2 separate regions of the Homo sapiens genome follow, and region 2 is linked to region 1. The links come from fine-mapping of genetic effects on gene expression. A gene starts in region 1. The other region holds a variant in brackets. All regions are shown on one strand. Distances are from middle to middle. Region 1 holds the start of ZDHHC13 (zDHHC palmitoyltransferase 13). Region 2 has its middle 15 kb from the start of PTPN5.

What was found. PIP is the estimated chance that this variant, and not a neighbour inherited with it, causes the effect.
Region 2: its variant is the best candidate, but not a certain one, in a credible set for the expression of ZDHHC13 in monocytes after Pam3CSK4 (Quach 2016, PIP 0.60).

Annotation. Positions count from the first base shown.
Region 1 is chr11:19,114,657-19,119,052 of GRCh38, forward strand. It overlaps ZDHHC13 (zDHHC palmitoyltransferase 13), which reads left to right and starts at 2,512. Exons shown (of 17, transcript NM_019028.3): 1 at 2,512-2,620. The coding sequence starts at 2,594. RefSeq lists silencers at 2,242-2,481, 2,532-2,611, 2,702-2,931.
Region 2 is chr11:18,804,780-18,809,175 of GRCh38, forward strand. No RefSeq gene overlaps it. Among named protein-coding and RNA genes, the nearest start is that of PTPN5, 15 kb to the left of the region's middle. The variant A/G (reference allele first, on the strand shown) is at 1,915.

The DNA of each region.
Region 1 (4,396 bases):
ATATCTCCTAATGCTATCCCTCCCCCAGCCCCCCACCCCACAACAGGCCCCAGTGTATGATGTCCCCCTTCCTGTGTCCAAGTGTTCTCATTGTTCAATTCCCACCTATGAGTGAGAACATGCGATGTTTGGTTTTTTGTCCTTGCGATAGTTTGCTGAGAATGATGGTTTCCAGCTTCATCCATGTCCTTACAAAGGACATGAACTCATATTTTTTATGGCTGCATAGTATTCCATGGTGTATATGTGCCACATTTTCTTAATCCAGTCTATCCCAGCAAAGGTATTTTCAAAGTTGAGAGGTATTGGGGGCAGTTAGAGGCTATCACTGCGTTTGGTTTCATATAGCCATTAGACATGGATATGCTTAATCTGAAATAGCTCACTGGAAGCATAAAACATGAGCAGAGGGAAACCAGGAGCCTGACTAAGGAGTGGGGTGTTCGGATTTAGTTGCTCCAAAATCTTCCAATGTGTTAGGATATTAGTGCAGACGCATTGAAACAGATTTTAAGCCTCCCTCAAGTTCAGCATCTTCTAAATCAGACTTTGAAAATGAAAGAAACAAACTACTTCAGCCAAAATGCTTGCAGTAAGAAACCTGGGTTTGAATACTCTCTTTACTACTTACTTGCTGAGTGACTTGGGGTTTATGGAATCAGCCTGAACCTCAGTTTCTCCTCCCAGGAGATGAGGAAAATACCACCCATCTCGTGGATGAGACATAATGTATGAAAACACTAGCACAGTGCCAACACATAGTAAGTGATGAATAAATAAACCTTTTTTTTTTTTTTTTTTTTTTGAAACAGAGTCTCGCTCTGTCACCCAGGCTGGAGTGTAGTGGCGCGATCTCGGCTCACTGCAAGCTCCGCCTCCCGGGTTCACGCCATTCTCCTGTCTCAGCCTCCCTAGTAGCTGGGACTACAGGCGCCCACAACCACGCCCGGCTATTTTTTTTTTTTTTTTGTATTTTTAGTAGAAACGGGGTTTCACCGTGTTAGCCAGGATGGTCTCGATCTCCTGACCTCGTGATCCACCTGCCTCGGCCTCCCAAAGTGCTGGGATTACAGGTGTGAGCCACCACGCCCGGCCAGAAAGCTCTTATTAGTTAAGCAAAATGACCAAACCCAAACATTCCTTCCTGTATGAATCCTCACCCAATGCCTCATCCTAACTTGTCGGAATTAATTGCTTTTTCCTCTGGCTTTCGGTGGGAGTTGCTTGCACTTCTACTTGTCACTCCATTTGTCCGTGTATTAATGACACGCCTGTACATCCATCCATCCATCATTCATTAAAATTGTGCTGAGCATTTTCCATGTCCCAGTGCTGTGTTAGACACTGGGAGTTCAGAGATGGATCTGACATGGTTCCTATCCTCAAAGGGTTTGGGCTTTTGGGGGCAAGCCAGGGCTGACGTGCCCAAAGGACACAGACACTAAAGCAATAGTAATACATCTACGATTTTATTGTATCATAGCAATATTTTCCATGGAAAACCCAGCACTTTGTTGGATTTCTATTTATTTATTTTATGATTTAGTATTATTTTTATAAAATAAGGAAGTCATAATGTTTTCAGATCGTTTTCAAATTAGCTTCTAAAGGTCTTAATCTGGTTCCACTTGGCAACAGACACATCTAAGGAACCATTACAAAGAACTGTGTTAAGTGCTGGGCTAGAAAAACCCCAGTGTTTACTCGGGGCTGAAGTAGGAGAGCCCCACTGCCCCACTGGAACGCCCCAAGGGAAGGAGCCATCCCTAATGCTTGCTTCATAGACCTTCAAGCTGGACAGGGCTTAAATGCCAGCTCCTCCAGTGCCCTCCACAAAGGGTCGTGGAGGTCAGGGGGGAGGTGCACTTCAAGTGGGAGGCTCTCGCCCACTCCCCCTCTAGCCTGCGCCGTAGAACTCATTTTTTGTTTCATTTGAGGAAACAGAACCTCAGGCGGTAGAGGTGACTTGCCCAAGATCACGCAAATGGAGTGGAAAACATTTAAATAGCTAACATCTATTGATTCCTTTTTATATGTAACGCACGGGCTGAGGGGCTTTACATGCGTTTTCTCATTTAATCCTCCTGATAATTCCATGAAGTAGGTACCCTTATTTTCCTCATTTCACAGATGAGAAAATTGAGGTAAAATAAGAGACTTTCACAAGGTCATTTAGCAATTAAGTAGCCAAGTCCAGATTTGCTCTCAATAGATGGTGGTTGACGTTGGAATAACAGTCTGATCCTGACCCTGGACGCACATCTGGGGCCCGTGGCACCTGGGGCAGGGAGGGGCGCTCGGTCCTGGGCTGGGGCTGGGGGAGCGACCGGCACGGGCGGGCCGGGGGTGGAGCCTCTGGCGAGCTGTTCACAGCGGGCTTCCCAGGAGGTGAGAAAGTCCCGCCCCTAGCCGATGGAGGGCTGGGATTGGTTCTCCGGGACCGATTGACGGCTCAGGGCACGAGCGGGGACCGCAGCGGCGGAGGTGAGGGCGCCAGCAGGAAGTGGGAGAAGAGGCGACCCAAGGCGGGCTGGCGGGCTGGCGGCAGTCGCTACTTGCCTAGTAGCCTCAGCCGCTGTGGGCTCCTGGGGAGATGGAGGGGCCGGGGCTGGGCTCGCAGGTGAGTGCGGCCGGGCGGTGGCTGTCCTGGGGGCCGGGAGAGCGGCTGCAGCTGTGGAGGAAAGGATGGTGTGGGTGAGAGGCCGCTCGATGAGGGGGTTTCGGGAGCGGCGGGGCCTAGGTCTGGGAAGCGGGAGCCTGGAAACACCACGAACGATGCTGGAAATTGTCTCTGAGGCGACTGGGAAGAAAAGGCGAGGACTGAGGGGTGAGGGCCCGAGCCGGCCCCTCCAGCCTCCATCCCTGGCCAGGGCGCCCCCTGGGGCCGGTACCCGGAGCCCGGCGGGGACCTCTGTGGGCCTGGGGAGGGGACGATGGCCCTTCCCGGGAGAGGTGTCAGGTGACACACCTGATTCGGACCCGCCCGTCTTGACGTTGGCCCGGAGTCGGAGCGGTTCTGTTGATTTCTTTTTCAGCCCTGGCGTCTTAGCACCCGCCTTCACCCCACCCAGTCCAGTTTTCGCTCCTGTTTCCGCATCCTTGCTTACTCCTTGAAATAATTAAGGCTGCTTGTTTAGGATGGAGGAAAGGGGCGTGGAGAGGGGAGGTACACCACAGCGATCTGCAGAATCTCAAAGGACAATATTCCGTGGAGGAGGTGTTATATAAAAGCCAGACGGAGGTCCAAAGAAGCCAGGCGGGCCAGTCGGAGAAGTTACAGGAGGTAGATGTTGTCTCCAAGAAAACAAGATTTTTGTGCTTTTTGCTTATGGCCCTTTCCTAGTGCCTAGAGTACTGACTAGTATATTGTAGACGTTCACTTAATATTTATTGAATAAATGCAGAATTTCCAGGTTCAGCCAGTTTTAGTGAGTGCATAACCCATGTCAGATGCTTTCATATGCATTATTTTATTCCAGAATTGAAGCATCCTTAAGAAGATATTATCCCCATATACAGATGAGAACGAACACTAAAGCTGTCTTCAGCTGGAATCAGTTAGGCGGTAGATTCTCAGTTTGGGATGATTGGATTACCTGATCTCTAAAAACGTTTTTCCAGTCCCGAGAGTGTTCCTCATGCTTTCCCTTTCCCTTCTTTCAGCACGATCTTGTGTAGGTTTAAGTGAGGGACAAGATGTCTGGGGAAATGTCAAGGTGTTCTTATTGGTTATTCTTGAATTTTAACAGAAAAAAAATAGTTCTCAGGCAGACTGGATTTTACCAAAGGGTGTTGAATCTTCACATGGAAACAGCGCCTCATTCTTTTTCTCAGAGAGGCTCAAAGAAAAGTTGGTAGGAGTAACTATTATGTCTTAATTACTGCCACTCATTTACAGAAGGCTTCAAGTGCTTAAAGTTCACTCTCTCATGCTGAAGGGAAGATTAGCCTTGTCCCAGTTCCATGGCCTATAGAGAGGGAGAGAATGATTTGGTGGTTGAATTTAGTAGGGAAAGGTAGAGAGATCATTGTCGTTGTTAATAATAATTGCTCTTGTTCACTTTTTCAGTAATGTGAAGACCTCACCTATATATACTGCTTTGCAGTTTGCAAAATACTTCCCCATTTTTGATCCTCACTATAATCCTCTGAGGTGGGGAGAAATGATTATTCTGATTTTAGAAATGAGAACAGAGGCTCAGAAAACTGGAATCACTTGCTACAAGTCAAATAGCTGCTAAGTGATAGAGCCAAGACTTCAGTCGTTCATTCAGCAAATGTGTTTTGAATGTCTGCCAGGCACCGTTTTAGGTGCTGTGATAAATTAGTGAACAAAACAGACAAAAACATTACTGCTCTCATTGAATTTGGTTCTTTTGATTCCAAGATCGGTGCT
Region 2 (4,396 bases), 310 kb before region 1:
CTGCACTGCTGAGTGGTGAATGTGGAGGACAGCTGCCCTGAGGAGTTGTCCAGACATGCTGTAAACTTTGTATGAACAGGAGTTTAACCTCTACTGTGTTAAATCACTGAGATTTTGGTATCATTTGTTGCAACAGTGTAACCTAGTCTACTCCAACTGTTGTAAGAGTGTAACCTAGTCTATTCTGACTAATATAGTAACATGTTTACCTTAGTAATAAAAAGAATTGTTACCATTTTATAAAATGTAATCAATTAAACAAGTACCGTATTCAAAAATTTTCATGTCAGAATTTCAGAAAGTCACATTAAATTACATTTGTAATAAATGATCATGCTATGCCTGGTTTAAAATCAAGATCACTTTTTCAATTAAGAGATATTGATTTGTGATAAATTGTTAACTGAACCATAGACTTGTAATATTGGCAGGAACCTCAAAATTTCATTTTGCATATCCCACCCACAAGTTCATATACGGGTATGTCTAAACCATCCAATACAACTGAGTTGTCTAAACCAATGGGTTCCAAAACTTCCATCATCAGAAATATTATAACTTAAATAAAAGAGGAGACTCCTAAGTCAGACTTCTGGAATTTTGGTTAAGGAGATCTAGGACAGGACCTGGGAAATGGCATTTTAAAAACTGTACCATGTGATTTCAGTCACAGGGAGGATTGGGAATCCCTGGTCCAGAACATAACTTTCAAATGATCATTACTTCAATTTAAGCTTCACTTAAACTTTGTGCCCATGTTGAAATTGAGATCACTTTTGTAATTTCAGGCCACGTTCTCCAGAAGCAGAATCTGAGGTGGGGATTCATGTGCATGTGATTTACTAAGGAGTGCTCTCAGGGGAAGCCTGTAAGGGAATGGGGAAAGGAGGACAGGGAAGGGGAAGAATCAGGAACACATTCTATGATTTAATGATTTGAAAATGAAACAAACATTTTATTAAATACAGAAATGATGGTATGGTGGAAAAAACATGGGCTTCAGAATTAGATAGACCTGACATTAAAAAATTTAAATTATTAATACTATGTTAGATTGACAAACCATAATTGTATACATTTATGATGTAAAATGTGAAGTTTTAATATAGGTATACAATGTGGCATTAATAAATTAAGCTAATTAACATATCAATCACCTTTCTTGCCTATCATTTTTTAAGGTGAGACATTTGAAATGTACTTATTATGAAATATATTATATAATACATTGTTATTGATTATAGTCAGCCTTCTGTGCAATAGATCTCAAAATCCTTTCCTCTTATGTAATCTGGGTCTTGGTACTCTTTCATCAGCAACTGTTCATTTCCTCCCTCCCCTCTTCCTCAGCATCTGGTAACCATTATTCTACTGTCTACTTCTATGAATTCACATATTTACATTTCACTTATAAGGAAATCGTGAGGTATTTGTCTTTCTGTGCCTGGCTTTTTCACTTACCACAATGTCTTCCAGATTAATCCATGTTGTTGCAAATGACAATATTTCCCCCATTTTAAAGGCTGAATAGTAGTCCATTGAATATGTACACCATATTTCTCTTTATCTGTTGATGGAAACTTAGATCGTTCTCCTACCTTAGCCATTGTGAATAATGCTACAATGAATGTGAGAGTGGAGATACCCCTTCAACATACTGATTTCAGTTTCTTTTTTTGAGACGGAGTCCTGCTCTGTCACCCAGCTTGGAGTGCAGTGGAGCAATCTCAGCTCACTGCAACCTCTGACTCCTGGGTTCAAGTGATTCTTTTCCCTCAGCCTCCCGAGTAGCTGGGCTTACAGGCACCCACCACCACACCAGGCTAATTTTTTTGTATATTTAGTAGAGACAGGGTTTCGCCGTATTGGCCAGGCTGGTCTCGAGCACCTGACCTCAGGTGATCTGGCCACCTC[A/G]GCCTCCCAAAGTGTAATTTCAGCTTCTTATTAATATATACCCAGAAAGGAGATTACCGAGTCCTATAGTATTTCTATTTGTAATACTTGGAGAAAACTCCATACTGTTTTTCATAACAGCTGTACTAATTTACATTCCCATCAACAGTATATAAGAGTTCCATTTTTCTCTGAATCCTCTCTAACACTTGATATCTTATCTCTTTGATAAAAGCCATTCTAACAGGTATGGGGGATAGTTCATTGTGGCTTTAATTTGCATTTGCCTAATGATTAGTGATACTGACCTTTTTTCATGTACCTATTGGTCACTCACATGTCTTTTTTTTTTTTTTTTTTTGAGAAATATCTGTTCAGGCGCTTTGCCCATTTAAAAATTGGGTTATTTATTTTTTTTCTTGCTCTTGAATTGAGTTCCTTACATATTTTATAAATTAACCCCTTATCAGATGTATGGTTTGCAAATATTTCTCCCATTCTATGGGTTGTCTCTTCCTTTTGTTAATTGTTTCCTTTGCTATGCAGAAGTTTTTTACTTTGATGCCATCTCATTTGCCTATTTTTCTTTTTGTTTCTTGTGCTCTTGGGATCCTATCCAAGAAATCCTTGCCCAGAAAATTGTCATGAAGCTTTCCCCCTACGTTTTCTTCTAGTAGCTTTTCAGTTTCAGCTTTATAGTTAAGTCTTTTGCCCATTTTGAGTTGATTTTTGTGTATGGTGTAAGATAAAGGTCTAATTTCTTTCTTCTGTGTGTGGATGTGCAGTTTTTCTAATACCATTTATTGAAGAGATGTTCTTTCCCCATTGTGTATTCTTGGCATGCTTGTCAAAAATCAGTTGACTGTAAATGCAAGGGTTATTTCTGGGTTTTCTAGCCTGTCCTACTGGTCAGTGTGTCTGTTGTATGCCAGTACAATGCTGTTTTGATTGCATTGCTTTACATGTTTCGAAATCAGAAAGTGTGATGCCTCCAGCCTTGTTCTTTTTTTTTAATTAATTAATTTATTTTTTTTGAGATGGAGTCTCACTCTGTCGCCCAGGCTGGAGTGCAGTGGCGCAATCTTGGCTCACTGCAACCTTTGCCTCCCTGCAACCTTTGCCTCCCAGGTTCAAGTGATTCTCCTGCCTCAGCCTCCCAAGTATCTGAGACTACAGGCATGCACCACCACACCTGGCTAATTTTTGTATTTTTAGTAGAGACAGGGTTTCACCATGTTGGCCAGGCTGGTCTTGAACTCCTGACCTCGTGATCTGCCTGCCTTGGCCTCCCAAAGTGCTGGGATTACAGGCATGAGCCACTGCACCTGGCCCAGCCTTGTTCTTTTTGCTCAAGATTGTTTTGGCTATTTGGGGTCTTTTGTGGTTCCATACAAACTTAAGGATTTTTTTCCATTTTGTAAAAAATGACACTGGGGCTGGGCGCAGTGGCTCACGCCTGTAATCCCAGCACTTTGGGAGGCCGAGGTAGGCAGACCACGAGGTCAGGAGTTGGAGACCAGCCTGGCCAATATGGTGAAACCCTGTCTCTACCAAAAAAAACAAAAATTAGTCGGGCGTGGTGGTGCGTGCCTGTAATCCCAGCTACTTGGGAGGCTGAGGCAGGAAAATCGCTGGAACCCAGGAGGCGGAGGTTGTAGTGGGCTGAGATTGTGCCACTGCACTCCAGCCTGGGCAACAGAGCGAGATTCCATCTCAAAAAAAAAAAAAAAAGACATTGGATTTTTGATAGGGATTGCATTGCACCCTTAGATCACCTTGGATACTATGGACATATTCACAATCTTAATTTTTCACACCCATCAACGTGAGATATCTTTTCATTTATTTGTGTAGTCTTCAATTTTTTATTTTTTAGAAACAGGAATCTCACTATGTTGCCTACACTGTACTTGAACTCCTGGTCTCAAGTGATCCTCCTGCCTCAGCTTCCCAAGTAGCTGAGACTACAGGTGCTTACCACTGCACCTGACTTTCAATTTATCTCATCAGTGTTTTATAGTTTTCAGTATACAGGTATTTTACCTCCTTGGTTAAATTTACACCTAAGCATTTAAATTATTTTGTTATTGTAAATGGGATTGTTTTCTTAATTTCCTTTTCAGATAGTTTGTTATTAGTACATAGAAACACTAATGATCTTTGTATGGTTCTTTTGTATTCTGCAACTTTACTGAATTTATCAGTTCTAACAGTTTTTTGGTGGAGGCTTTAGATTTTCTATATATAAGATCATGTTGTCAGCAAATAGAGACAATTCTACTCTTTCCTTTCCTGTTAGGATGTCTTTTTTTTTTTTCTCTTGCCTGATTTCACTGGCTGGGACTTCCAGTACTGTGTTGAAAAGAAGTGGTGAAAGTGGGCATCCTTGTCTTGTCCCAGATCTTAGAGGAAAAGCTGTCAACTTTTTAGCATTGAGAATGATGTTAGCAATGGGTTTGTCATATATAACCTTTATTGTGTTGAGGTACAGTCCCTCTGTAGC